Homo sapiens: one gene and its partner. The protein of the gene in region 1 interacts with the protein of each later gene in a pairwise test. Each region holds a gene or a part of one and is shown in the gene's direction. Other genes may lie near its edges. The genes, in order: GABPA and ZC2HC1B.

The links.
Region 2: the proteins of GABPA (region 1) and ZC2HC1B interact in binary tests that used the Homo sapiens proteins (3 or more experiments, as listed by UniProt).

What each region holds. Positions count from the first base shown.
Region 1 is NC_000021.9:25,758,753-25,762,675, forward strand, and holds part of GABPA (GA-binding protein alpha chain), read left to right. Parts: intron 1-3,559; coding exon 3,560-3,613; intron 3,614-3,886; exon of another isoform or gene 3,887-3,923.
Region 2 is NC_000006.12:143,895,262-143,899,184, forward strand, and holds part of ZC2HC1B (zinc finger C2HC domain-containing protein 1B), read left to right. Parts: intron 1-3,290; coding exon 3,291-3,430; intron 3,431-3,923.

The sequences.
Region 1 (3,923 bases):
CCATTGGTTATAAGTTTTTCCACTTATAACTTGTAAGGCTTCAGACATTATTATGATTAAGTGACCATGTAAAGAAATTGGATGAGGCAGGCAGATCACTTGAGGTTAGAAGTTCGAGACCAGCCTGGCCAACGTGGTGAAACCCCATCTCCACTAAAAATACAAAAAATAGGCGGACAAGGTGGTGCGTGTCTGTAGTCCTACCTACTTGGGAGGTTGAGGCGAGAGGATAGCCTGAACCTGAAAGGCGGAGGTTGCAGTGAGCTGAGACTGCGCCACTACACTCCAGCATGGTGACAGAGCAAGAGTCTCAATTGGAAAAAAAAGAGAGAGAGAAGTTTGGAAACTACTTGGCTGTCCAAGAAAACAAGGCACAAATGTAAATTATTTTTGCTTGAATTTTAATCCATCTTATATTTCAGTCACTGTTAAGACACCGAAAGCAACCCATTCCTTGACAGTTTTGCATATCAGAAATGCTAGCCAGACCCACATATTTTTCAGAACACATGACTACAACATACTCTGACTTTGCTTTTGTATCAGTTATGGATGAAAATGTTAATGATAGCATTTTGTTTTATTATATACCCAATAAGGAGAGAGCTCTGGTGGAGGGATTTTTCCACCGTAATTCAATGCTTGCAGTTTTCATTCAAGGTGCTTTCTCTGGCCAGGTGCAGTGGCTCACTCCTGTAACCCCAGCACTTTGGGAGTCTGGGGTGGGCAGATCACTTGAGATGAGGAGTTGAAAGTGCTTTCTCTGCTGGTGAATAAGAAATGAGCTCTGGAGAGAGGCATTTCTTAATTGTTTATAATTTTATTCTTGTGAGGATTCTCCCAGATGTTTTTTTTAAGTATCTATGATACTAAAAGACTTAGTACATTCATTGTATTTGCAGCATTTATTTCCAATTTCCATTCTTACTAGATAAGTAAGTTGAATGTCCTGGTTGAAGCTTTGTCCTTGGTTTCACAGATTTCCTTCCCTGCAGAGGTTTTGAAATGAATAAGGTAGATTCTGAATTGTGAAACATGTGAGTCATGTTTATTGAAACACTTTCTTATAAGAAATCTCAAGAACACAACAAAGATAGTGCATAGATGGTAGTTTCATTTTTCCCAAATCCACGTTTTTTCCAGTCTTTCCCAGGTCAGCTGTTTGTTGTGGCTGTCTCTTTCTGGTTCTCTTATTGCTTCTCAAACTTTAAAGCTTATTCATAGGCTTTTCCCAGAACAGAAGTCAAAGGTGTCTTGTGTATCTTTCCATTTCCATGCAGTTGAATGAGTCTTCCTCAGAAAAGCTCTGCTCTGGAACCATTGCTTTGTCTTTTAAAGCAACAAAGTCCCACAGCCTAGATGAGTGTCTCACGGAATTTCTTGGTGATCCAGCCATGGTTCTTCACTCTGCCGGGGTAGGGAAATCCCATCTGCTTTGGAAATCTAGTGCTCAGTTCAGAATTGGGAGATGGGCAGGATGATGTGTAAGGGTATTTCTAACAGACTTTCTAGAATTCACAAGTCTTACTTCTCAGAATAGGGTTTTTTGAGCTCAGTGTAGTTAGTACTCTGGTCCCTTCTGTAGAGAGAAGTCTGCAGCCTATCTGCGAAAGGCACTGATTCTGGGACAGAACTGTTAATAACCCAGCCTCTATTATCCATCCTCAGTGATCTCTCAAGAAGCAGCAGTACTGAAGAGGTAGGGCTCCTTCTTCAGATATTTGTATGAGATTATTCACCTGAGCCACCACCTGCCTGCAGTCCCCCCTATGTTGAAACTACATCCAAGTCCCACTATACATGGGAGGATAATTAGGAAATGTCCCAGTACTACCAGTTCCATGATGTCCTTCTCGGTGTGAATCTCTGTCTTCTGTCACCAAAGGCAAATGAAGTTCTCAGTTTGCTAAGGGTTTTATTTAGGAAAAATAATTGTTTTATTCCTGTAGTGTCTAATGTTTCTTCATAAAATGGCTCCATATCCCCCAGGGCTTTGCCTCTCAAGACTGCTTACTTTGTGTGTAGCAAGGATTTGGAGGTTTCAGGGAGGAATGTGATATTCAGAGTGCCTGTACTTTGAAGAGATTGGTCTTGGACCAGTCTTTCAAAAACTTTTTTTTTTTCCCCCTGTGGTCTGCCTTCTGTCTTGAGAGTTTCCAGGAAACAGACCAAACTCCAATCTGAGAATTAGGACTTAGAAGGTGATTTTACAAGTTGATTATGCCTGTGCTGTGTGATGGTGATGCTTTCGTTTGCCTCTTTTGAGGCTAGGTTCCTTTAGTCTCAAATAGTTCCTCTTTGAGGAACTTTTATAAAATTCTGAGGAAAATTTACTACAAACATAAAGTGCGTATTTTTTTTATCAAGAGAGACCACAGTTCTGGAGGAGAATGCTCAGAACTAGGAGTCTGGATAAAACAGTGAGGTTGTCAGTTGACTGAAAAAGTAACTGTTTTGTGCACTGTGCTTTTTAAAAACATGTTTCTTTAATCCTCACAATAACCTCATGAGGCAGTAAGTATAGGTGTCTAATTTAAACTTGAAGAAGTTAATGTTGAAAGAGGTCGGTAATTTTACCAAAGTCATATAGTCAGTAAGAGCTAAGAACTAAATCCAGATCTGTCTGAAGCCAGTCCCATATAATTCTTAAGTCCTCAGTCTTCAGACCCTCAAAGCTCCCATCTGATAGGATTCTGACCTCTTTTTACTTCCCCAACCTTTTCCAGCTCTGCGTGTCTGGAACTGGATCCTGGCAAGGCACCCTTAGCGGAGTCTTCTTGGGAGCCCAGGCCTCAGTACCCAGAATGATTGCTGGAGGGTATAGTTTCAATTTCAAGAGAGAGGCATGCAATTTGTGATGGGCACAAAGTAGGCTGAAGTAATAGAGACTGGGATGTGCAATTCTTGTGAGAGGTAAAGAATAACATCTAAGTAGGGAATAACAACAGATAAGTAATGAATGGTTCTGTAAAGCCTTATCTCAGGACCTTTATAGTATTTTTATTTTGGGAACTATATTTTTAAATGTGAAATTATTTAGTTTAATTGAGACATTTAGGACTGCTACAATTGTGTTGAAAATTTGCTGTCTTTAAGTAGAAGCATTATAAAGCTTAAGCAGCTTTAGTCAAAAGTGGATGTTATAACAAATAATGGGAAGGAGGCCTTTTTGGTGGAGATACGTACCTAAATAATTTAATTTTGGTGTATATTTTATCTTTGATCTGATCTTGAAGATTTCCATATTTTTACATGGCTTTATGTGGATTTCAATACAAATGTTTACATTTAGAAAACCATAGTTCTCTGCAGAACTTTACTGAACACTAAAAGACATTGGAGCTTTTCCCTGTGTTATTTCTCTTAAGGTATCTTTTCCTTTTAAAGTGACTATCAAATATTTTTAAGGTTTTTATGCCAGTAAGTTTCAGTTCAGTGTTTTGGTTTTAATTGTGGAGTTCTTTTTAAAAGAACCATGTTTATTAAGTTGAGTTTTATTGGATTGGGGTTTTTATATTTTTGGTTTTAAATAAAAACAAAAAATTTTTGTTTTTTTCAGATGTATTGGCAAGTCAAGAACAACAGATGAATGAAATAGTTACAATTGATCAACGTGAGTATTTGTACCTATATTTGCCCTTTTATTAATAAGAAATGTTTATTTGATACCGCAAGGTAATAAAAAGGAAAATTATTTAAAAAAATTTTTTTTCTACACACAAAATATCTTTTGTTCTGTGGAATGAAAGCTCGACACAAGTACTTTATAAGATCCACTCATGTGTTTTTAAATGATACGATTAACATAACAGCTTGCTTTGTATCTCAGTTCACCAAAATTTGTTAGGACATCATTTGTTTCATCTTTACTGACTGTTAATTACCAAGTTGTAAGAACAATTCTAACCACATTCATACCTGAC
Region 2 (3,923 bases), on another chromosome or scaffold:
AAGCAATTCTCCTGTTTCAGCCTCCTGAGTAGCTGGGATTACAGGCGCCCGCCACCACGCCCAGCTGATTTCTGTATTTTTAGTAGAGATGGGGTTTCATCATATTGGTCAGGCTGATCTTGAACTCCTGACCTCAGGTAATGCACATGCCTCGGCCTCCCAAAGTGCTGGGATTACAGGCATGAGCCACTGCACCCGGCCAGTACTAAAGAATTTATATACATATAACTAGAGTTATATATAACATGGCCTAACATGCATGAATGTGCCAGTAATTTCCCTTTTTTCCTCAGCATGATTCCCTATTTTCATGATTCAGTTTTTGAGACATGCCTATATTCTACTTTTTAGTGACTTAGCTAAGTCTGTCAATGATTTAAATTTCTAGGATACTGTGACAGTTTATGGGGACAGTGATATAGAATATTTATAATTGTTATTTTTCTATGAGGCCTGGGACATTCAGTTACCATTTTGCATAGCTACATAGACACGGATACACAGCACAATATTGGCATTTTAAAATAATGCTTGGTTTTCCACTTTTCTCTGAGATCTGGCCACCATATTCCTCGAAAGAATTCATTTGGACTCTGACTTTTAAAATCATTACCTATTGAAATAAATAGGACATGGTGATTTTATGAAAACATTATTGATAGAGGAAGAGAGGTGACTCCGATTGAGCTGAGTGTAGAACATGTAGCTCAGTTATGCTGGGTTCAGATTATTGTTGCAGAAAATACAACAATTCTCAAAATATGTGAAGTTCAACATAAATAGAAATCAGCAACCTTGAATGCTCAGCCACAGGACTCTCTCCTGCCTGCTCTCTGCCCCTCTGGTGGGGCCTTATGTTCCTTCTGTAGGGTCCCAGAGGCCCTAGTGCCTCTTCTTCTACAGTTTATCCCACCAAGCAGTAATTGTCTGTTTGCCTAATCATCTCTGAGATTTTCATTGGCAGGGAAATAGACTTCAACTTTGCTGTCTCCATGGTGATATGTAGTACCAAACACAGAAGGGTGGCAGTGAGTGAATGAGCAAGTGGGATTAAGGAAGCAACTCAGTATTGCCATGATCATTGTCTTTGCCTAATGTGAGTAGGGTTTATGGTTGCAGCATTTCTTATGTAAGACTTCACTTTCCAGCTGGCAAAATTGAAGAAATAACCACCAAGCTAAAAGCCATGTTCTAGATGGTTCTTCTAAACCATTGTAAATGAATTCTGAATGATAATGGCACTTTCTATTGTACTTTTTTCCTAGGCAGTTTCACTTCTATTTGGTAGTTGGAAACACAACCTTGCTGAACCTGTTTCCTTATAGCAATAGCTAGCATTTACAAAACATTTAGTATGTTCCACCCCGCCCACTGTGCCAGGCCCTTATGTGGATTTTCATAGTTAACTTTCACAACAACCCGATGAAACAGGTGATATGTAGGTGCTGGGAAAATGGAAGCTTAAGGAGGTTGGGTAACTTGCCCGAGTTCACACACATAGCAAGTAAAGAACTCAGGCTCAAAACCAGTCAGGCAAGCTCCAGCACTGGGCTTTTTATCATTTCCCAATGCTGTCCTGTTCTATTTTTTTTCAAGGCATTTATCTCCGTGTGAAATTTTTATTTATTTGTTTCTGTGCTAGAATGCTTACTCCTTGATTTCAGAGACATTGCATCCCCAGGTGTAAGACAGCACCTGGCACCAAGTAGATGCTCAGTCAGTGTTAAATTAATGATGAGGTACTGCCTTCTGGATGGAGTAAGAAATAAAGGATAAGGCTACCAGATAATTCCTAAGTGCTTAACAATTGTTACATCTTATGAATATACATTTTAGGAAATGATTTGTTCAAATAGGAAACTCCCCAAACTGCTTAAAAAGGTGGCTTACAAAAAATTCTTAACATCACTACATGAAATACCCATCCACGCATGTAGGAATTTTGACTATACACTAACACAAGTTCTACACTGAGTTTGAGGTTGATGCAGTTTCACACCCTTCCTGGGGTCGGGGCGGTGGGATTATTTTATGTTGCTGATATCTAGTGTGCTATCCCTTTAAGGTGCCTGAAACAAAACAAAGCAAACACCAATCCCTGCTTGATTTAGAGGGGTAGTTGCCAACCTAGTTTTGCTATGAGCAGCTCCACATTCTAAGAAGATCTTGCCTGTTTCCCACTTCTCATTTCTCTCCGTAACCAATTATGTCTGTTAATTGCAAATGAAAGAAGAAAAAAAAGATATTATACAGAACCACAGAGAACCTGGGGCCGACAGGAGCTGCCTGGGCCATTGCATCTCTGGAAGCTGAAGCTGTTTTCGGTGAACTTTCCTATCATCCCTCCTTCTTTCCCTTTTCTGTTTTTTGAGTCCTCACCTTTTATCCTATTACTATCTCCTTCCTGAATATATTGCCTGCTCACTTAGTAGTTAAGTGAAAAAAAAAATCTAGCCACTGCAAAAGCAGTATGTCTTTCTGCCAGTGACACAGTCCCATTGACTTCCATTCATATCTCCCAAACCCACATTTTGAAACATCCCATCTCCCTCTGTAACTCTGTAACTTCTCTAAGACCCACCCAGCACTACAACCTATGCTTTTGAATATTCTGTGCCCTACTGTGCCATCAATACTAACATTCTGTGATTCTAGAACTACTTTCTTTACACAGGATTTACTAAATAATTCATTTCATTGAGAAGTTCTTAAGATTAATTTTCTTTGTTTTTCTGGAAAAGTACATCACTTAAACATTTCAAGGACAGACAATTGAAATGAATGCACAGGTTGTGACATTTTTCCATGCCATGTCCTTTAGTTGAGCCCTGCATGTCTTGCCCTTTGGAATAGTCTCAAACCAGAGTTTGGGACCTTGTTCTTTCATGTTGGAGCAGAGTTCATATCATTACTTACATATTTATTTATTTACTTATTTGAAATAGGGTCTTGTTCTGTTGCCCAGGCTGGAGTGCTGTGGCATGATCACAGCTGACTGCAGCCTTGACCTTCTGGGCTCAAGCTATCCTCTCAAGTGGCTGGAACCACAGGCACACACCACCACACCTGGCTAATTTTTTGTAGGGACGGGGTTTTGCCGTGTTGCCCAGGCTGGTCTCAAACTCCTGGACTCAAGCAGTCCACTCACCTCAGCCTCACAGAGTGCTGGGATTACTGGCATGAGCCATCATATCCTTATTTCACTTCATGTAGTTCATTCTATAATTCTATAGTATTCTATAGTTGTTTTTGAAGTGCTAATTGCCATTTGTTGTTATCTTTACATTCAGATTATATTCAACGTCCATATTGTATGAGAAGGTTTAATGAAAGCGCAGCTGAGCGACATACTAATTTCTGCAAGGATCAGTCTTCTCGCCGAGTCTTTAATCCAGCTCAGACAGCAGCCAAATTGGCATCCAGAGCTCAGGTAACTATCTCTCCCCAGGTGTTGGCTCTTGTGCCCTTGAATGCCTAGGGGTGAGCCGGTAGAACTCCCTAGAGAACCTCAGTTACCCATCCTAAGAAGTGTAAGCGTGAAGAGAGCTGATCATGATTGCTCACCCCTGTGGGAGCTGACTTCTTTTGCAGGAGAATGCTTTCCAGCTAAGGCACCTTTGGGTGTTGTAGAAAAAAATATTTCTAAAGTATTTGAAGCTTCTTTGGGTGAAGACTTGAATACATAGTGTTTCTATAGCATTATGGCAAAACTCTTTATCCAACAGTATCAACCTTAATCACCCAGAAAAGAATTGCGAACCTGAAGTGAAACTGCCTGAGTGGGACAGGCTGTCCCAAGGCAACTGCCCCACAGGTCATGTGTTTTGCTCTATAGAGGAGGGGTCTTCACCTTTTATTTAAAGTCACAGAATCAGCAAGTTAAAGGGATATGTGGATGAATGGAAGCAGCTGTTAACATTAGG